Regions from separate parts of the Homo sapiens genome. Here regions 1, 3, 4 and 5 are each linked to region 2. The links come from fine-mapping of genetic effects on gene expression. A gene starts in region 2. Each other region holds a variant in brackets. All regions are shown on one strand. Distances are from middle to middle.

The links. PIP is the estimated chance that this variant, and not a neighbour inherited with it, causes the effect.
Region 1: its variant is fine-mapped to the expression of PNKD in monocytes (TOPMed, PIP above 0.99). The same link has a PIP of 0.9 or more in whole blood.
Region 3: its variant is fine-mapped to the expression of PNKD in whole blood (TOPMed, PIP above 0.99). The same link has a PIP of 0.9 or more in blood mononuclear cells, monocytes, monocytes after LPS and monocytes after Pam3CSK4.
Region 4: its variant is fine-mapped to the expression of PNKD in whole blood (TOPMed, PIP above 0.99).
Region 5: its variant is fine-mapped to the expression of PNKD in whole blood (INTERVAL, PIP above 0.99).

The regions. Positions count from the first base shown.
Region 1 is chr2:218,320,818-218,324,996 of GRCh38, forward strand. All of the region lies in intron 2 of PNKD (PNKD metallo-beta-lactamase domain containing), which reads left to right. It overlaps LOC105373881 (a long non-coding RNA gene), which reads right to left and starts at 1,221. Exons shown (of 3, transcript XR_923914.3): 1 at 1,182-1,221. RefSeq lists a silencer at 2,059-2,578 and an enhancer at 2,061-2,656. The variant T/C (reference allele first, on the strand shown) is at 1,827.
Region 2 is chr2:218,267,996-218,272,174 of GRCh38, forward strand. PNKD (PNKD metallo-beta-lactamase domain containing) reads left to right here and starts at 2,524. Exons shown (of 10, transcript NM_015488.5): 1 at 2,524-2,607; 2 at 3,386-3,554. The coding sequence starts at 2,541. It overlaps AAMP (angio associated migratory cell protein), which reads right to left and starts at 2,142. Exons shown (of 11, transcript NM_001087.5): 1 at 1,971-2,142; 2 at 1,387-1,539. The coding sequence starts at 2,091. RefSeq lists enhancers at 435-1,320, 1,889-2,208, 2,359-2,738, 2,769-2,818.
Region 3 is chr2:218,314,133-218,318,311 of GRCh38, forward strand. The region is part of intron 2 of PNKD (PNKD metallo-beta-lactamase domain containing); the gene reads left to right. The region is part of intron 1 of LOC105373881 (a long non-coding RNA gene); the gene reads right to left. It overlaps LOC105373880 (a long non-coding RNA gene), which reads left to right and starts at 2,618. Exons shown (of 2, transcript XR_923909.3): 1 at 2,618-2,751; 2 at 3,823-4,179. The variant C/G (reference allele first, on the strand shown) is at 2,495.
Region 4 is chr2:218,335,245-218,339,423 of GRCh38, forward strand. The region is part of intron 2 of PNKD (PNKD metallo-beta-lactamase domain containing); the gene reads left to right. The region is part of intron 2 of CATIP-AS2 (CATIP antisense RNA 2); the gene reads right to left. Among named protein-coding and RNA genes, the nearest start is that of MIR6810, 4.6 kb to the right of the region's middle. The variant G/A (reference allele first, on the strand shown) is at 2,517.
Region 5 is chr2:218,349,921-218,354,099 of GRCh38, forward strand. CATIP-AS2 (CATIP antisense RNA 2) reads right to left here. Exons shown (of 4, transcript NR_125777.1): 2 at 1,240-1,306. It also overlaps the pseudogene RPL19P5. Among named protein-coding and RNA genes, the nearest start is that of CATIP, 4.8 kb to the right of the region's middle. The variant C/T (reference allele first, on the strand shown) is at 2,530.

The DNA.
Region 1 (4,179 bases), 53 kb after region 2:
AAGTACAGGAGAGGGGTAATAATAAGGCATCAGCCTGGATGGGATAGAAAATTCTTATGGCAGAGGAAGTGAAACTAAAGCCCACTTGCAGCAGACATTAGAAGTCTTCCAGAACAGTCTAAGGGTGGGGTTATGGCTCCCTGGGCCTGCATGACTCCCCTAAAACACTCACCCTCACTCCTTTTCCCAGTCCCGCCTTGACTCCATATGTTTCATCAAACATATCTTGGATTTATTATCTATAATCTTGTTAATTGTCTGGCTTGAGATTTAGAATTTGGTCATCTCTGTGTTCTCTACAAGCTCATGCTTGAGCATGCATTTCCTGTTTCAGATTACAGGACTGCATTTTAATTTCTTGATAGAATGCCTGATATAGCCTTACCTGGCACAGCCTTACCTGCAGAAAGTTGTGTGCACAATGACTTTTGATGATGCCTCCATGATCCTTCACTTTGCATGTACAGACACAGACACGGAGATGCAAACTCCTGCATCCTACAAGGGTCATCTGCAAATTGGCTTATCAGTTTTCTCACTCCTCTGTCTCCTCTGCGGTACCAGCCCTTTATATGCCAGGCACTGAGAAGCAACCTAATTACAGGCGAGGAGACAGGGAGGGAGCAGGCCATAGGCTCTGTCCCTCAAGATGTACCCACATAGAAGAAACTCCAGGTCTGTCTGGGTTTTCTGGATTAAACCCAGATTCAGGTATTGGAATTACAATTCAGTTTGAAGATAATTTAACATATCCCTCACCCATCTCCCTCCCAGAACCTCCCAGCAGCAGCAAAGGTGAGCTTGACTTTTTTTTTTTTTTTTTTTTTTGAGACGGAGTCTCACCCCTGTCACCTAGGCTGGAGTGCCGTGGCACAATCTCAGCTCACTGCAACCTCCACCTCCCGGGTTCAAGCGATTCTCTTGCCTCAGGCTCCCGAGTAGCTGGGACTACATGTGCATGCCACCATGCCAGGCTAATTTTGTATTTTTAGTAGAGATGGGGTTTCACCGTGTTAGCCAGGATGGTCTCGATCTCTTGACCTAGCGATCCGCAGGCCTCAGCCTCCCAAAGTGCTGGGATTAAGCGTGAGCCACCGCTCCCGGCCGAGCTTGACTCTTTTTTTTTTTTTTTTTTGAGCCGGAGTCTTGCTCTAGAGTGCAATGGCACGATCTCGACTCACCGCAACTTCTGCCTCCTGGGTTCAAGCGATTCTCCTGTCTCAGCCTCCCGAGTAGCTAGGATTACAGGCAGGCGCCACCATGCCTGGCTAATTTTGTATTTTTAGTAAAGACGTGGTTTCTCCATGTTGGTCAAGCTGGTCTCCAACTCCCGACCTCACGTGATCCGCCCCCCTCGGCCTCCCAAAGTGCTGGGATTACAGGCGTGAGCCACCGCGCCTGGCCGAGCTTGACTCTTTAGAGCATTTCCTTCCCTTCCTGTCCTGGGCCAGAGCTAGGGCTGGAGCCAAAACAAGCCCAGCCCTGGCTCCTGTGCCTAAATTTGTAGATTTCACCACCACCACGCCTGTCCTCACACCTGCTTCCATTCCAGGGACCTTAACAACTTCTAGAATCCATCAGGAGGGCAGCAGTGAGGGAGCTGGGAACGGTGATGTGGAAATCGCCCTGGGTTTGGGAGTGGGAATGCCCCAGCCCTAGGCCCCTCTGTGCCACCCATGGCTACATATCCTAGGTCATGTTGCTCCTCCAGAGCTTGTGTGGCCTCTTCCTATCCTTCAGGGCAGGACTTATGTCGTCCGCTGGGGAGGCCCTCCCCCATCTAAGTTGGCCCTCTCTGTGCTCCATATCATTGCCCCCTCCTTGAC[T/C]TCCTTTCGCAATTTATCACGCGCATATGTATGTGTATGCATAAACAGATATAATTTTGTTTGCTCGCTTATTTGGTTCGTCGCCTCACTAGATTCCGGACTGTGGGCTCCAGGAATGCAGACAGTGTGCCTTTGACCCTTGCATCCTCCTCAGAGCCTGGCAGAGTGCCAAGTACATAGGAGGAGCTAGAAAAGTAATTCGGCGAATGAATAAATCCATGAATGGCAGCTGACCCCGATGATCTCTCAGGTTTCTGCCAGTTGAGAAAGTGTAGCAGTGCCCTGGACGGGGAGGCGGGCGGGGCGAACTGCGAGCTCCTGCCCCTTCCCAGGGCTCAGGCGACTGTGGACCCCGATCAGCGCAGGCTCGCGGCCCGCTGTGGCCCCGCCTCCTGGCCGCCAGCCGGGCGGAGCCAGGCCGCCCCCCAAGCCGGGTGGCCTTCGGGGTGCTTGCCCGGCTGGAGGTGGTGAGGGGGCGGGTCCAAAGGAGAGGTCAATGGGCGGGGCGGGGCCACAACGCCCCCACGTCCAGAGCCGGCAGGCAGGTTCCCCGCGGGGGGCCGGGGCCGGGCCGTTGCCTAGCAACGCCGAGCCCCGCCCGGCCGGCGCGTGCCTGCCCCCAGCATGGCTTGGCAGGGCTGGCCCGCGGCGTGGCAGTGGGTCGCCGGCTGCTGGCTCCTCCTCGTCCTTGTCCTCGTCCTACTTGTGAGCCCCCGCGGCTGCCGAGCGCGGCGGGGCCTCCGCGGTCTGCTCATGGCGCACAGCCAGCGGCTGCTCTTCCGAATCGGGTTAGTGCCCGGGCTCCGAAGCGTGCGGGCTCGGGAGGCGGGCGCGCTGGGAGAGGGGACTGGGAGGCGGGGGCTGGAGCTGGGGGTGGGCGTGGCGGTTAGGAAGGGGCTTGGTCTAAGGGAAGAGGGATCGAGGAGACGGACTGGAGAAGCCACTGAGTTGGGGGGCCTGAGGGATTTGGGGGGCTGGACAATTGGGATAAGCTGGGGAAGGAGGATCGGAGAGGCGGGCCAGGGTGGCCACGGAAGGAGGGCGTGAGAGGACATCTGGAGCAAAGTGCCACAGAATGGGCTGGAGACCAGGAAGCTGGACAGGGGGATAGTGCAGGAGCCAGGGCTGGGAAGACCGTCCCTGTCCGGGGGTGAGGTCAGCAGATGCCCGGGCTCCGATGGCAAGTGCCGGAGAGAAGGAATGCCTCCCACCGTCTGACATTTAAAACCGCCAACTCCTTTCGTATGTCCTTGTCCCACTCCCCAGCATCCAACTCCTCACCAGTCAAGTTAGGTTCTTCTGTCCCAAGCAAGAGTCCCAACCCTGTTGGATTCCAGTATGTCCCTTTCCTTCTAACCAAAGCCTGGCCCGTGTGGAAGCCCCAGGCTGTGAAATCTGACCCAACTGACTCTGCCCACTTTTCCAGTGATTTGTCTCCGTCGACCCTCCCCCGCTCACTCTGCCCTCCTGCCTCCCTCTACCCCTTCCTTCCTGGCCCCAGGGGAGGGTGGTGCCTAGCAAGCACTGTTCAGCCCCAGGGACACTGAGAGGCAGGGAAGAAGACAGGCCTCCGAGGCCCCCTGTCCCCTTCCTACTACCAGCCTGGCCATGGGTCAGGACCTCAAGCCCCAGTTTAGGGACAGTAATGTTGGGGATGGGAATTGTGAGAGCCCTGGCCACAGGCCAGGTTGTGGGGAGAGCCTAAGCCTGGGAATTTCCCGAGCTTCCGAGCAGACATTGTGCAATTCACCCTCTCCTCCCCAGACCACCCCACACGCCCAGAAGCTTCAGGCGCAGGATTCCACTCACAGTCTAAGAAATGCAGATATAAAGGCAGGATAACTAGAAAAACATGGTGCTGGAGGGTGGGGTGGGGATCTTGTGTTTGTGCCTTTTGGGGCATTCACATCTCTAATATCCTAAACCTTGGTCGCAGTTTAGATAATGTGCCAAGTAAGTTACCATTGCTCTGCACGTTGCATTAAAATAATGAGATTGAAAAATATTTAGGCCAGGTGCGGTGGCTCACGCCTGTAATCCCAGCACTTTGGGAGGCTGAGGCAGGTGGCTCTCCTGAGGTCAGGAATTCGAGACCAGCCTGGCCAACATGGTGAAACGCCATCTCTACTAAAAATACAAAAATTAGCTGGGCACGGTGGTAAGCGCCTGTAATCCCAGCTACTCAGGAGGCTGAGGCAGGAAAATTGCTTGAAGCCGGGAGAGGGAGGTTGCAGTAAGCCGAGATCGCAGCCATTGCACTCCAGCCTGGGCGACAGAGTGAGACTCCGTCTCAAAAAACAAAAAAAAGAAAAAGAAAAAAAAATCCCAAACATGAAGGTATCTAAATAATTTT
Region 2 (4,179 bases):
TCTTGCTCTGTCGCCCAGGCTGGAGTGCAGTGGCACAATCTCAGCTCACTGCAACCTCCACCTCCCAGGTTCAAGCAATTCTCCTGCCTCAGCCCCCTGAGTAGCTGGGATTACAGGCGCCCGCCACCACAACCAGCTAATTTTTGTATTTTTAGTAGAGATGGGGTTTCATCATGTTGGTCAGGCTGGTCTCGAACTCCTAACCTTCTGATCCACCCGCCTCGGCCTCCCAAAGTGCTGGGATTACAGGCATGAGCCACCGTGCCTGGCAACAGTTTCTTACTAAGAACTAGCACTTGAGAAAGTTATATAAAATATGCTCAAAAAGATATAATTATCTCTCATTTTATTTTATTTTTTTGAGATGGAATCTTGCTCTGTCGCCCAGGCCGAAGCGCAGTGGCACAATCTCAGCTCAATGCAACCTCTGCCTCCCAGGTTCAAGTGATTCTCCTTCCTCAGCCTCCGGAGTAGCTGGGATTACAGGCACATGCCACCACACCCAGCTAATTTTTTTTTTATTTTTAGTAGAGATGAGGTTTCACCATGTCGGCCAGGCTGGTCTTGAACTCCCGACCTCAGGTGATCCACCCGCCTTGGCCTTCCAAAGTGCTGTGATTACAGGCATGAGCCACCGCACCTGGCCAATTATCTCTAATTTTATACTCACTACTTTTATTAACTTTTATCAAAGATAACTTTTTTTTTTTTTTTTTTTTTGGAGACAGACTCTCATTCTGTTGCCCAGGCTGGAGTGCAATGGCGCAGTCTTGGTCCACTGCAACCTCCGCCTCCCGGGTTCAAGCAATTCTCCTGCCTCAACCTCCCGAGGAGCTGGGACTACAGGCGCCCGCTACCACGCCCAGCTAATTTTTGTATTTTTAGTAGAGACGGGGTTTCACCATATTGGCCAGGCTGGTCTGGAACTCCCGACCTTGTGATCCGCCTGCCTGGGCCTCCTAAAGTGCTGGGATTACAGGCGTGAGCCACCATGCCCAGCCAAATTTTTGTATTTTTAGTAGAGACTGGGTTTTGCCATGTTGGCCAGGCTGGTCTCGAACTCCTGACCTCAAGTGATCCACCTGCCTCAGCCTCCTAAAGTGCTGGGATTTCAGGAGTGAGCCACCACGCCCGGCCAAAGATAACTTTTTAAAAGAAAACTAAGAGGTTAATCAAGGTTAACTGGCAAAGTAGAGGGTGTCTCGACTGATGCCAGAAGCCAAGCAATCATCCATTCTGCCACACTTTCCCACCTGTGGGCTCCTCCAGCGCAAGGCCAGCATCTTGCCCATCTCTGTGTCCCCCATAACGTTCTGTCCATGGCTGATGTTTAATGCTTACACGCCCACCTAAACTGATTTGAGGTGGATCGCCTCAAAGACCTACCTGAGTGCAATGCAAAGGTGACCTCGCTATCGTCGGGGCCCTCCATGCTGCCGACCACCCCTTCCTGGGGTTCTAGAACCCAGCCCTCTTCGTTGCCCTCTTCCTCCTCTTCTTCCTCAAAGTCCACATCTTCCATCTCCTGGGCCAGGTCATCTGCTTTGGGGAGAGGGTTAGAAGATGGGGCTCGGGAGGCGGTAAGAGGTACGGAGAGAAGCATGAGGAGGCCTGAGGCTGGGGCGGGTCATGTGGCGAGAAGGGAAGGTGGAGTCAGACACACCGGGGTCCGCGGGGGCGCGCGGGACACAGGACGGGAGGCCACGGCTGGCCAGAGACCGTGCGGTAAGGGAGGGCCAAGGGGATGATGGGAAGGGGGTGTGTGAGGGGAAGGGCCAGAGGAGGCGTCAGGGAACCCCCACCCCAGCCAGGCCTGAGAACTAAGTGTGAGGGTGGGAGTGGGGGAGGAGGGGAAGAGGGATATCGGTAGGAATGACCAGTCGGGTGTGGAGGGGAGCGGGGAAAAGCAGGAGTCAGAGGCCAGGGGTGAGCGTCTCCTGTCCCATGGCCTGAGGAGCGGCAGTTCTCACCTGGGTCCGGCGGACCGGGATCAAGTTCTACCACCTCGATAATCTCTTCATCACCATGGAAGCTTAGGGTCTCCAGTGGGGGGGTGTCAGCAGCAGCCCCGCTTTCCGATTCGGACTCCATGCGGCGCAAGCGGCGGATCCACTTCTCTGGGCCCAAACGCCTCCCAGAGTCAGCTCTGCGCGACGACGCGGAACTCGAGCCCCTCCTCCCGGCAGGAAGTAGGCGTAGGCGACTCCCCAGCAGGAAGAGCGACGGCCGTTCGGCCAATAGCTACGAAGGTTGGCTGGCCGCCTCACCAATCACAGAGCGGCATTGGAAGATGGGGCCGGGGCGTGGCGGAGAGAACCCAAACTCCGCCCCACCTGACTCCGCCCCCAACTGGAGGGAAACAAGCGAGCGCGCGCGCCTCCGGGGTCTCCTGGGAAGAGTAGTTCTCCTGGGTCCGCTCTGCGGGCTTCTGGGAGATGTAGTTTCTGGTCTGTAGGCAGGACGGAAGGAGCGGGGGAGGCCCCTTACGCAAACTACAATTCCCGGCGGGGAGCGCGGTGAAGCGGGGGTGGGATCTGAACATGGCGGCGGTGGTAGCTGCTACGGCGCTGAAGGGCCGGGGGGCGAGAAATGCCCGCGTCCTCCGGGGTAAGGAGAGGGACCCCGGGGAGGGCAGGACTGCAGAAGATCCCTTTTCTTTCACGTCCAGCCCGACGATAGCAGGAGGTCAGGGCTCTTGGTTCCTCCCCACACTTTTCTGCAAGATCTTAGAGTCTGGGGGTGCAGAGATGCTCTTTAGAGGTCACCCAGTGCATCCCCCCGCCTTCGGGTTGCTCGACACCTCCGGGGTCTTGCTGCAAGAGGGAGCTCCTAGGAAGCCTGTTGGACTCCCGCGCTCCAGGTGTTTCACACTCACCGCAGTGCAGAGGAAAGAGCCCCGGGCTTCTGGAGGTTTGAGTTCCAGCCCCGGATAATTAGCAGTTTGACCTTGGGCAAAGCAGTTTTTCTCTCAGGGCTTCAGTTTCCTCTTCCGTACAGTGCAAGGGATGGAGTAGACTATCTTTAAGGTCCCTTCCAGTGCTAACATTTGCAGTTTCAAAACCTTTTCCCGGATTTCCTTCATACGTCTTATGTGAGTCCCACTGCAGTCCTTCCCATGCTGTCGTCTGAGGAAGAACAGCGAAGCTTTTCGTCCTGGCACCAGGGTGATGAGCCCGCAGTGACGTGGAAGTGGCTTCCAAAGGTGCCACCTCGGTGGCGATTTTCCCATTTCCCTTTGGATTCTCCTTGGCACTTCTTACTTCAGACTGCAGTCACTCCCCTTCCCCAGATCTCAGCCGCTCCTCCCAAGCCCTTACTGCCCCCCACCTCCCCGCTTGCTTTCTTCTCATCTCTTCTTACTGACCTTCCTTACCTCCATCCACAGGGATTCTCGCAGGAGCCACAGCTAACAAGGCTTCTCATAACAGGACCCGGGCCCTGCAAAGCCACAGCTCCCCAGAGGGCAAGGAGGAACCTGAACCCCTATCCCCGGAGCTGGAATACATTCCCAGAAAGAGGGGCAAGAACCCCATGAAAGCTGTGGGACTGGCCTGGTGAGTTTTAACCACCCCTTTGCCCACCAACGGGGCGTGGCTTGTAGGGGAGGGCAGGACTTAGAAACTTCTCCAAGTTTCAGGTGGCGAGCTGAATCCAAAGTTGTGGGAACAGAATTGTTGGGTTCGATTGGAATCTCAGAGGGGTGGGGCAGTGGAGGTGGGAAAGTATGTGGAATTGAGAAGACAGTGGGTTTACTGTGGAGTAAGCTGAGTTGATCTGATTCAGACTTGGGTCCCTGGCCTCATCCTCCCTTTTGGGAGCTTGGAGTGAGACCCAAGTTTAAGTAAGTAGTTCGTTGAGATCATGTGAGCTTGTACTAGTTGTATAGTAGTACTCAGAAGGCGTTATGAACATTGTGATTGGGCTCTGACTCTGACCTTAATACATATTATTGACCAATATTAAAGAGAAAGGAGGAAGAAATCAACATTTTTTTCTGCATGTGAGGTGTGCCAGTACTTTGCCATGTAATGTTTTAGTGTTTGAGATAAGTATTACATCCCCATTTCACAGAGGAAGGAACTGAGACTGAGCTAGGATTCTCACCTAGTCTGTGACTCCATGCTCTTTCCCCCATACCAAAGTGCCTCCCAAGCAGTGGTTACTTAGCTTAAGAGGGGA
Region 3 (4,179 bases), 46 kb after region 2:
GGCTGGTCTCAAACTCCCAGCCTCAGGTGATCTGCCTGCCTCTGCCTCCCAAATTGCTGGGATTACAGGCGTGAGCCACCGCGCCCTGGCTTTTTTTTTTTTTTTTTTTTTGAGACAGAGTCTCTGTCTCCCAGGCTGGAGTGCAGTGACATGATCACAGTTTACTGCAGCCTTTACCTCCCAGGCCCAAGAGATCCTCCTACCTCAGCCTCCTGAGCAGCTGGAAGCACAGGCGTGTACCACCAAGCCTGGCTGATTTTTTAAATTTTTTGTAGAGATGAGGTCTCCCTCTGTTGCCCAGGCTGGTCTGGAACTCCTGGGCTCAAGCGATCCTCCCACCTTGGCCTCCCAAAGTGCTGGGATTACTTGTACTTTGGGTGCAAGTTAGCCACCATGCCTGGCTATACTTGGATTTTCTTGATTCTTTTGAGTTTTCACATTTTTTCATATTTATTAGCCATTTATTAATTTATTAATTGAGGTCATTGTGTTTTCACATTTATTTAAGGTCTGTAATCACTCCTTGGCCTTTTGGCTAAGATCAAGTATATTTAAGTTCGTTTTTTTTTTTCTTTTTGAGAGAGTCTCACTCTGTCGCCCAGGCTGGAGTGCAATGGGGCGATCTCGGCTTACTGGAACCTCCACCTCCTGGGTTCAAGCGATTTCTTGTGCCTCAGTGCCCAAGTAGCTAGGATTACAGACGCCTGCCACCATGCCCTGCTAATTTTTGTATTTTTAGCAGAGACTTGGTTTCACCACTTTGGACAGGCTGGCCTTGAACTCCTGGCCTCAAGTGATCCACCTGCTTCAGTCTCCCGAAGTGCTGGGATGCCAGGCATGAGCCACTATGCCCGCCTGAGGTTTTCTTTCTTTCTTTCTTTTTCTTTCTTTCTTTCTTTCTTTCTTTTTCTTTCTTTCTTTCTTTCTTCCTTCCTTCCTTCCTTTCTTTCTCTCTCTCTCTCTCCTTCCTTCCTTCCTTCCTTCCTTCCTTTCTTTCTTTCTTTCTTTCTTTCTTCTTTCTTTCTTTTTTGAGACAGTCTTGCTGTGTCACCAGGCTGGAGTGCAGTGGCGTGATCTCAGCTCACTGTGACCTCTGCCTCCCAGGTTCAAGCTATTCTCCTGCCCCAGCCTCCCAAGTAGCTGGGACTACAGGCACGCGCCACCACGCCCAGCTAATTTTTGTATTTTTAGTAGAGACGGGGTTTCACCATGTTGGCCAGGATGGTCTCAATCTCTTTGACCTCGTCATCCACCCACCTCGGCCTCCACCCGCCTCGGCCTCCCAAAGTGCTGGGATTCCAGGCATGAGCCATGGCGCCCGGCCAAGGATTTAAATTTTAAAGTAACTAAAACAGTAATTATTTCCCTTGTTAGATCTTCTGTTGCTTTTTTCTGAATAATGTATGCCTTTAAGGAATAATAGGAATAATAAATGCCTTTAAGAATAACATACGCCTATTAAGGAAAATTAGAATGACGCATTTGTTATTTTTAGCTTTAGAAAATCCTCTGCTATCCAGATTGAACATGTCTTTCATTTTCTTCTAATTTTCTGTGGTTTAATTTTATATCCTTAACCCTTTAATTCGGGTAGAATTTATTTTGGTGGATTCTGTGAGGCACGAGTCTAAATTGCTCTTTTGTAAATAGCTAGTCACTCATCCATCATGTCTTTCCAGCATCATTAATATTCTGTTTCCCTCTGTCACTGTTAACTATTATTGCAGTAATGCTGCATAAGAAGCCAGTTCAAAACTCAGAAGCCTACAATCATAAGCATGTATCTTGCTCATGCATCTGTGGGCAGGCTGAGCTTTAGCTGATCTAGCTTGGGCTCTGCTGGGCTGGGTTGACTTCCAAGCTGTGAGTGGGATCCAGGTGGCTCCATGTGCCTTTCATCTCCCTTAGACCAGCAACATCAGTGGCGTGGGAAAATATACCTCGCCTCCATTGAAGTGATGCACAGTCACAGGGTGAACGGTATGTTTACAGTGAGAGATGAATAACTGGAAACTGAAATGCCATCTACCACACCTTTGGAGACAGCCTTTCAGGAAACTAGATTGTGTTGAGATAAAGGCAGAATGGAGTCTAGAAAATGGCACAAGGTCAAGGGAAGATTTTTTTCTTTCTTTCTTTTTTTTTTTTTTTTTTTGAGACAGAGTCTCACTCTGTCACCCAGGCTGGAGTGCAGTGGCACGATCTCAGCTCACTGCAACCTCCACCTCCCAGGTTCAAGTGATTATCCTGCCTCAGCTTCCCAAGTAGCTGGGATTACAGGCACCCGCCACCATATCCAGCTAATTTTTTGTATTTTTAGTAGAGACAGGGTTTCACCTTGTTGCCCAGGCTGGTTTCGAACTCCTGAGCTCAGGCAATCCGCCTGCCTTGGCCTCCCAAAGTGCTGGGATTACAGGCGTGAGCCACTGTGCCCGGCCAGGAAGTTTTTAAGGCAGGGAGATGCTGGAATTTGCTCTTAGGCTGAGGAAAATTG[C/G]AAAATATGTAGAGGGGTAGGTAGTCACAGAAATTGTTTTCTCTAAGAAGGATATTTGTTGAAAGTAAAGGAAATGACGTTGGGGCTTGAGGTTTGGAATAACAACTGCAGATGAGATGGGGCCTCAGCAAAACGGAACTGCCAAGCACTGGTATCAGGGACTTGGGATGGCCTGAACCATCGCAGCCCTGAGTCATATGACACAGCAGTTTTCTTCAGCCCTGCCCGTGAGGTAGGAGACTGTCAGGTTGGTTCAGGTAGGTCTGAAGGTTGGTAGGTTAAGGCTGGAGGTCAAGGGGGTCAGGGGATCAGGAAGCTAACAGGTGGTAAGTAGTTCAAGGGATTGAGCCTAAGTTCAAATATAGGTGCAAGAGGGGCTGAAGGGCTGGAAGAAAACAAACTGCCTGAGGAGCTGGAACTGGAGGTCCATGTGTACTGGGGATGGGAGGGGATCAGGGAAAAGGACATTGGAATTTAGGTTCTCAGAGGCAGAGAAGTTCCAGGTGAATCTAGGGTGTGGCCATGTGAGCAAGCTGCTGAATTATGTCGAAGGCATTGGAATTGAAGTCAGGAACTGAGGTCAAGGCAGAGTTCAGAACCACCTATGCGAAATGCACACTCTTGGGCCCCAGCCAAACCTACTAAGTTTGAATCTCTGGGGGACGGACCAGAATTCCGTATTTTTACAAGCTCCCTGAGTGGTTCCTAGGCTCCCTAACACTTGAAAACTGCTGTGCTATGATGTTGAATGAGCCATGCTTGTTGGAATTACCTGATGGCAGGAATCAGGCAGGAAGACTAAAAACAGGTGTTGAAATCCTTAGAGAGTCTGGGCTGATCAGTGTATGGGACTGATGAGGAGGGGTGGAAAGAAGTTTGTACATGAGTCAGGAAGAGCAATGGCCTTGGCCTGGACTATTGCTAGTGCATTCCTTTCCAACCTGGAGACAATGTAGGAGACTAAAGGCTTCCACTGCAGAAGGCAGGGCAGTGAGAGAGAAGGTAGGGAATAGAAGACAGGGATCATATTCAGTCCAGACAGGCTGGGAGCTCTGTGAGAAGGCAGAGGACGTTGGGGAAGGATTTGTTTCAGACCAAACCAGGGTTCTGCAGGGTACAGCAAAATGGCTCGGACAGGAGTTCATGAGAAAATGGTCCACGAGGGAAAGTGAGCTTTGGTTGGGGATAACAGATGAGGGGATGGACTGGGCTAAGCAGAGGCCAGATTATCCCAGTCACCACTTCTGCACTGGGTTCACTTTTCTAAACTGAACTAATTTCTCCACCCAGGTCTGACAAGATGTCTCTTTTCTCTAACATTTAAACAGCTCCAACCATCTCAGCTCCTTCATGATTGTTTCGTCATCATCACCATCGTCACTGTCATCATCATCATCATCACCACCAGTGATTTCCTGAATGCCAACCAAGCACCAGTCATCAAGCGTGAGCCACGGTGCAAAGATGGAGGCAGGCTCTCCATTCTAAGGGAACCTCTCAGGCCAGTAGGGAAGGCAAGATTCAGACACCAGGGACAGGCAGCCTGGGATGACAGGTGGAACAAGGAGGAGACACAAGAACCCCCACCCCAACCCAGGAACCCACATCACAGGCCAGACCTGCATGATCGCCAGGCACCCGACTCGGGTTATGAAGGTGTCTCTCCTAAGAGAGTGGCAGAGGCA
Region 4 (4,179 bases), 67 kb after region 2:
ACTGAGGCAGGCAGATCACCTGAGGTCGGGAGCTCTAGACCAGCCTGATCAACATGGAGAAACCCTATCTCTACTAAAAATACAAAATTAGACGGGCGTGGTGTCGCATGCCTGTAATCCCAGCTACTTGGGAGGCTGAGGCAGGAGAATTGCTTGAACCTGGGAGGTGGAGGTTGCGGTGAGCCAAGATCACGCCATTGCACTCCAGCCCAGGCAACAAGAGTGAAACTCCATCTGGAAAAAAAAAATGTTAATTGTCCTGTCTGTCCTACTAGATAGAACCTTCACAAGGACAGTGAGTTTGCCTTGCTCAGTGTGTGTTCAGTGCCTGGCCAATAGCAAGGATTCAGTAAATATTGTTGAAGAAATGTAAGTTGGCCAAATCTAATTTAGAAATAAAACCAAAAAAAAAAGAAGGCCTACGAAAAAGGAACATAAAGACAAATAAAGGTTGGCAAAGCCCTTCAACCATGTGCCCAGATTGCCAATCAATATAAACCCATGGGTACATAGAGCAGACAATGCAGTGATTAAACTTTACCTAAATCATATCTACAAATTGCCATGGAAACCTGCTTGGTTTTGACCCAACTGCTTGCAGACAAATCAGCTAGCTCTCCCCTTAGGGGTCTGAAGAGCGGCTGCCCCTGCTCCCACATACACGGTCAATCCTTGTAGAGACTTAGGGTCAGCCAGGCGTGGTGGCTCATGTCTGTAATCCCAGCACTTTGGGAGGCCAAGGCGGGTTGATCATGAGGTCAAGAGATTGAGACCATCTTGGCCAACATGGTGAAACCCTGTCTCTACTAAAAGTACAAAAATTAGCCAGGCGTGGTGGTGGGTGCCTGTAATCCCAGCTACTCGGGAGGCTGAGGCAAGAGAATCACTTGAACCCGGGAGGCAGAGGTTGCAGTGAGCCAAGATCGTGCCACTGCACTCCAGCACGGTGACAGAGTGAGACTCCATCTCAAAAAAAAAAAAAAAGTTTGGAAAAAATAGCCATTAAAAGTACTAAAATATGAAGCTTTTTTTCTTCTACAATCTCTATTTTGACCTGTGATGTTTTTAATTTGCTATTTAATGTCATTCTAAGTAAGAAGCATTTAAATTATTAGCAGGAATTTTACCATTTGCTTAATATTGTGCAATGCCTGTTTTAAATACAAATATAAGGACATTTAACTCCTGTAGAATCACAGAAACGACATAATTAATATTTCTTAGCTTATACATGGATGTGTATTTAGTTCTTACCAGGAGAGGGTCTCCTCTGTCACTCAGACTGGAGTGCAGTGGTGCAAACATGGCTCACTGCAGCCTTGACCTCCTGGGTTCAAGTGATCCTCCCACCTCAGCCTCCCAAGTAGCTGGGACCACAAGTGCATGCCACCATGCCTGCCTAATTTTTGCATTTTTAGTAGAGACAGGGTCTCGCCATGTTGCCCAGTCTGGTCTCAAAATCCTGGGCTCAAGCACTTCTTCCATCACCACCTCCGAAAGTGCTGGGATTACAGGAGTGAGTCACCACACCTGGCCTTCAATTCTTTTTTTTTTTTTTTTTTTTTTTTTCAGACAGAGTTTCACTCTTGTTGCCCAGGCTGGAGTGCAATGGTGTGATCTTCTTGGCTCACCGCAACCTCCGCCTCCCAGGTTCAAGTGATTCTCCTGCCTCAGCCTCCCAAGTAGCTGGGATTACAGGCGCCCACCACCACACCCTGTTAATTTTTGTATTTTTAGCAGAGATGGGGTTTTACCATGTTGGCCAGGCTGGTCTCCAATTCCTGACCTCAAGTGATCTACCAGCCTCTGCCTTCCAAAGAGCTGGGATTACAGGTGTGTGCCACTGCACCCAGCCTTCAATTCTTTTCTTTTTTTTTATTGAGATGGAGTCTCACTCTGTCGCCCAGGCTGGAGTGCAGTGGTGAGATCTCGGCTTACTACAACCTCAGCCTCCCAAGTAGCTAGGATTACAGGCGCCTGCCACCACGCCCAGCTAATTTTTGTAGTTTTAGTAGAGATGGGGTTTCACTATCTTGGCCAGGCTGGTCTTGAACTCCTGACCATGTGATCCACCTGCCTTGGCCTCCCAAAGTTCTGAGATTACAGGCATGAGCCACCGCGCCCGGCCTTCAATTCTTAATACGTGCACATTCTGCCAGCACTGTTGGCTTGCTAGTTAATAAGGAAGGATGGAAAGGAAAAGGATGGATTGGTTACCCTATCTTCCCTTTCCTTTCTATATCGCTATTTGCAGCATAAATAGGTGGATAACACAAAAGCAAGAAAGGATGCAGCAGAGTTCCTTGGTCATTCGTGTTTCTTAGAACACCTCTGTCTTTGTGCACTTGAAGCACGTTCTAGTTTGAACTGAAAGCTTGGCCTCTTGGGTCAGTCATAGGTGTGCACTCGCCTTGTACTTGCTTTGAGTCTTGTTGAACTCCCATGCGTTGTGTGTCCCCCAGATTTGTGTGCTCATGGGCATTGCAGACTCTGTATAGGTATGATAAGCGAGGAAC[G/A]GAGCACACTCACTGTGTGTGTCTCTTGCTCCCTGCATGTCCCACTGTCCTATCAGGCTCCACTTGCAAGACACAAGGTCAAAGATAAAATCATTAAGAATTTCAGGGTCGGGCACGGTGGCTCACCCCTGTAATCCCAGCACTTTGGGAGGCCAAGGTGGGCAAATCACGAGGTCAAGAGATCGAGACCATCCTGGCCCACATGGTGAAACCCCATCTCTATTAAAAATACAAAAATTAGCTGGGTGTGGTGGTGCACGCCTCTAGTCCCAGCTACTCAGGAGGCTGAGGCAGGAGAATCGCCTGAACCTGGGAGGCAGAGGTTGCAGTGAGCTGAGATTGCACCACTGCACCCCTGCCTGACGACAGAGTGAGACTCCCTCTCAAAAACAAACAAACAAACAAAAATTTCAGGCTTGGCCAGGCACAGTGGCTCACACCTGTAATCCCAGCACTTTGAAAGGCCGAGGCAGGCGGATCACCTAAGGTCAGGAGTTTGAGACCAGCCTGGCCAACGTGGCAAAACCCTGTCTCTACTAAAAATACAAAAAATTGCCGGGCATGGTGGTGTGAGCCTGTAATCCCAGCTACTCGGGAGGCTGAGGCAGGAGAATCACTTGAACCTGGGAGGTGGAGGTTGCAGTGAGCCGAGATTGCACCACTGCACTCCAGTCTGGGCAACAGAGCGAGACTCTGTCTCAAAAAAAAAAAAAAAAGAATTTCAGGTGGGACACGGTGGCTCACACCTGTAATCCTAACACTTTGGGAGGCCAAGGCAGGAGGATTTGTTGAGCCCAGGAGTTCGAGACCAGCCTAGACAACAAACTGAGACCCCATCTCTACAAAAAAGATAATTGGGATTACAGGTGCCCATCACCACACCCGGCTAATTTTTGTATTTTTAGTAGAGACGGGGTTTCACCATGTTAGTCAGGCTGGTCTTGAACTCCTGACCTCAGATGATCCACCTGCCTCGGCCTCCCAAAGTGCTGGGATTACAGGCGTGAGACACCACACCCAGCCTCAGATGATTTTTTTTTTTTTTTTTTTGAGACAGGGTCTTGTTTTGTCACCCAGGCTGGAGTACAGTGGTGCAATCATGGCTTACTGCAGCTTCACCCTCCCGGGCTCAAGCAATCCTCCTGCCTCAGCTACCTGAGTAGCTGGGACCACAGGCGTGTGCCACCACGCCCAGCTATTCTTTTTTTTGTGTGTGTAGAGACCCTATAGGGCACAATGTTGCCCAGGCTGGTCTCGAACTCCTGGGCTCAAGTGATCCTCTCTCCTTCCCTCCCAAGGTGCTGGGATTACAGGTGTGAGCCACTGTACCCAACCTTCTTCAGATGATTAGGATGCATGCTAAAGTCTGACCACCACTGTTCTTTCTGAAATATTTTTTCTACCTCATTTCAGCCTCCTAATTCCTACTCCTTCTTCCCTGCAAATGTCACTTCATCAGAGGTGCTAGACCCTGGGCTAGATTAAACCCCTCACTCTCCAAGTCTCTCTTTTTTTTTAGACAGAGTCTCACTCTTTGGCCTGGGCTGCAGTGCAGTGGTGCGATGCCCAATTCTCCTGCCTCAGCCTCCTGAGTAGCTGGGACTACAAGCGTGTGCCACCACACCCGACTAAGTTTTGTATTTTTAGTAGAGACAGGGTTTCG
Region 5 (4,179 bases), 82 kb after region 2:
CAAGACATATAAGCAAGAGAGGGCTTAATAAACGGATTAACCATTCCATAAAGAAGACTGTAATTTATTAAAGAGGGATTGTAGCCACTGAGGGCTGAAGCTGGCATTTTCCCTGAGCCTGTTAATAATTTTGATTTTATCTTTAGGTACCTGTAGATTTTCCTTTACTTTACTAGGTGTTAATCCAAAAGCAGCATGTTTCATTTAAAAGTGCATCACTAGGGCCAGGTGCGGTGGCTCATGCCTGTAATCCCAGCATTTTGGGAGGCCGAGGCGGGCGTATCATGAGGTCAGGAGATCGAGACCATCCTGGGTAACACAGTGAAACCCTGTCTCTACTAAACAAATACAAAAAATTGGCCAGGCGTGCTGGCGGGCACCTGTGGTCCCAGCTACTCAGGAGGCTGAGGCAGGAGAATGGTGTGAACCCGGAAGGCAGAGCTTGCAGTGAGTCAAGATTGCACCACTGCACTCCAGCCTGGGCAAGACAGCAAAACTCCATCCCCCACCAAAAAAAGTGCATCACTAAACCCAATTAAAAAGTCCTAGCTGACTTAGTGATAGTAAAACTTTTATGCTTCCTTTTTGTCAATAACTATTATCCCGGTTATAAGGATAATAATTAAGCAAAATAGGACAGCAATGGAAACTGTCCAATATTTTAGTTAGAAGGTGCTACTGTGTATAACACTATTGCAAATAGTAGAGTGAGGACAGCAATTTCCACAAGTGTAGTGTGGTAGATAATTTCCACCTAATATTTTACTTGCCGGCCGGACGCGGTGGCTTAAGCCTGCAATCCCAGCACTTTCGGAGGCCAAGGTGGGCAGGTCACCTAAGGTCGGGAGTTCAAGACCAGCCTGACCAACATGGAGAAACCCCGTCTCTACAAAAAAATACAAAAAATTAGCGGGGCATGGTGGTGCATGCCTGTAATCCCAGCTACTCAGAAGGCTGAGGCAGGAGAATTGCTTGAACCTGGGAGGCGGAGATTGCAGTGAGCCAAGATTGTGCCATTACACTCCAGCCTGGGCAACAAGAGTGAAATTCTGTCTCAAAAAAAATTTTTTACTTGCCAAGATATAGAATTCCCCTTTTAGGGTCTCTGAAGTTCCTTGGTTTTATTTTCCCAAACAAAGAAACCTCCCGGTTATGAGCACCTTACTCACTTTCTTTACCTGGCAAAATTTGCAAGATAATTGCCCAGAACTAGAGTATTGATTCACCTTTTTACCTTACCCATCGCTTTTTTTTTTCCAAGCTGCAGAAGATCACCTCTTGATTCACAGGAATAAGCAGGGTTAGTCTAAAATGTAAGCAAAAAGTTTAAAAACAATTAATGAAACTAGGATTTAATGACAAATGTATGATAAGCTTTGGATCAAAATTTTTCTCTTCAGTCCTCATTTTTGGTAAGCACTAATTATGAATAAACTTTAGTCCTTTTAGAAATAAATTATCAGGGCTGCAAAAGAAATAGCACTCAAGACCAGGTGCGGTGGCTCACACCTGTAATCCCAGCAATCTGGGAGGCCGATGTGGGCAGATCACAAGGTCAGGAGATCAAGGCCATCCTGGCTAACACGGTGAAACCCCGTCTCTACTAAAAACACAAAAAATTAGCCAGGCGTGGTGGTGGGCGCCCATAGTCCCATCTACTCAGGAGGCTGAGGCAGGAGAATGGTGTGAACCTGGGAGGCAGAGCTTGCAGTGAGCCGAGATCGCACCACTGCACTCCAGCCTGGGCCACAGAGTGAAACTCCATCTCAAAAAAAAAAAAAAAAAGAAAAAAGAAAAGAAATAGCACTCAAACATAAATTTAATTTTCTCAGCAAGGCAATTTTACTTCCATACAAGGGTGTGTCTCACGGATGGAGCAATGGCGAGAGCACACCTGAACAAGGGAGGGGAAGGGGTTCTTATCCTAACTCAGCTAGTCCCTACTGCTGTGTCTTTCCCCTATTGGCTAGGGTTGGACCACACAGTCTAAGCTAATTCTGATTGGCTATTTTAAAGAGAGCAGGGGTATGAGCCAGAGTGGTGGGATAGGTAGTTTGGCAGGAAGGATGGTTACAGAACAGGTGACTCAGGATGACTAACAACAGAGCAGGTGACCAAGGGTGACTAAGTTCAGAGCAGGTGATAGAGGCTAGGAGGGGGTTGTTTACTGTAACTAGGGGCAAGGAGATGTAAAGAACGAGAAACTTTAAAATGAAGAACAAAGAACAGGAGAGCTGAATATACTGATACATTGGTTCTTTGAAGAGGATCTCAGAACTCATTGTGCTTAACAATTTATAGGCTAAAACCTTTGAAGAGGAATTTATTATATCCTACAATCTTATACTTGGCCTGATTATTTGCGTAAAGTGCAGCAAGAATGGTTATTTTTACTTACATAGGCCTTTTGCATTGGCTTTAATGAAACTCTGTTTCACAAGGAATTTCAGATAAGACTTTTAAAGCCAAGCCCAGCCATGGGTTTGTATCCTCTAACACCTGTGAGTTGGGTGATCCTCTCTTGAGGTC[C/T]CAAGATAAACTCAGAGCTTCCAGACCTGTTACAAAGTTATGTGTCTGTTCTTTTACCAGTACCATGCTGTTTGGTTACTGTGGCCCTGTAGTGTAGTTTGAAGTCAGGTAGCGTGATGGATGCAGCTTTATTCTTTTTGCTTAGGATTGCTTTAGCTATTTGGGCTCTTTTTTCATCTGATATTAATTTTAAAATAGTTTTTTCTAGTTTTGTGAAGAATGACAATTGTAGTTTAATGGGGACAGCACTGAATCTATAAATTGCTTTGACTAGTATGGCCATTTTATGATATTGATTCTTCCTATCCATGAGCGTGGAATGGTTTTCCATTTGTTTGTGTCATCTCTGAGTCCTCTGCACAGTGGTTTGTAGTTATCCTTGTAGAGATCTTTCACTTTCCTTGTTAGCTGTATTCCTAGGTAGTTTATTCTTTTTGTGGCAATAGTGAATGGGAGTTCGTTCATGAATTGGCTCTCTGCTTGCCTGTTGTTGGTATATAGGAATGCTAGCGATTTTTGCACGTTGATTTTGTATCCTGAGACTTTGCTGAAGTTGCTAATGAGCTTAAGAAGCTTTTGGGCTGAGATGATGGGGTTTTCTAGATATAGGATCATGTCATCTTCAAACAGGGATAGTTTGACTTCCTCTCTTCTTATTTGAATGCCCTTTTTTTCTTTCTCTTGCCTGACTGCTCTGGCCAGAACTTCCAATACTATGTTGAATAGGAAAATATAAATTTTAAAACATAAGTATTGGCTGGGCACGGTGGCTCACGCCTGTAATCCCAGCACTTTGGGAGGCTGAGGCGGGCGGATCACGAGGTCAGGAGATCAAGACCATCCTGGCTAACGTGGTGAAACCCTGTCTCTACTAAAAATACAAAAAAATTAGCCAGGTGTGGTGGCAGGCGCCTGTAGTCCCAGTTACTCAGGAGGCTGAGAGGCAGGAGAATGGCGTGAACCCGGGAGGCAGAGCTTGCAGTGAGCCGAGATTGAGCCACTGCACTCCAGCCTGGGGGACAGAGCGAGACTGTCTCAAACAAACAAACAAAAGTATTTTTAAAACTTTTAAGTTCAACTTACCAGTCATATAATTCTCATCATAAATCTAGTGAATGTTAACATTTTTTAGAAACAGGGTCTCACTATGTTGCCCAGGCTGGTCTTCAACTCCTGGCTTCAAATCATCCACCCACCTTGGCCTCCCATGGGATTACAGGTGTAAGCCCCTGCACCCAGCCAAGGGGGCTTTAATTAATAATTGGTTGGTCTTCTTTTCAAAATTAAAACTGCTTTAGGCAGCTTATACTGCAGTTGTTCATCCAATATATTTTATTTCCTTTTTTAAAGCGATTGATTGATAAACCAGCCTCCCAAATACCTTTACTGCAACCTAATAAAAGTAAACATATAAATACAGTAAATCTTAATTTTATTTTTTTTAATGTTCTGGTTCTACTTGCAATCTCAATAAGAAACTTTAAAATTCAAAATCAATTATTCAATAACCCAATTTAAACTTGAATCTGCAGACGTATCTTTTAAGCACTCTAATATACCAATTTTAAACATTTTAAGAACCTGAAATAACAGAGTTCTTTCCTTTCGCTGCTGCAGCCGCAGCCATAAATATGCTCAGGCTTTAGAAGA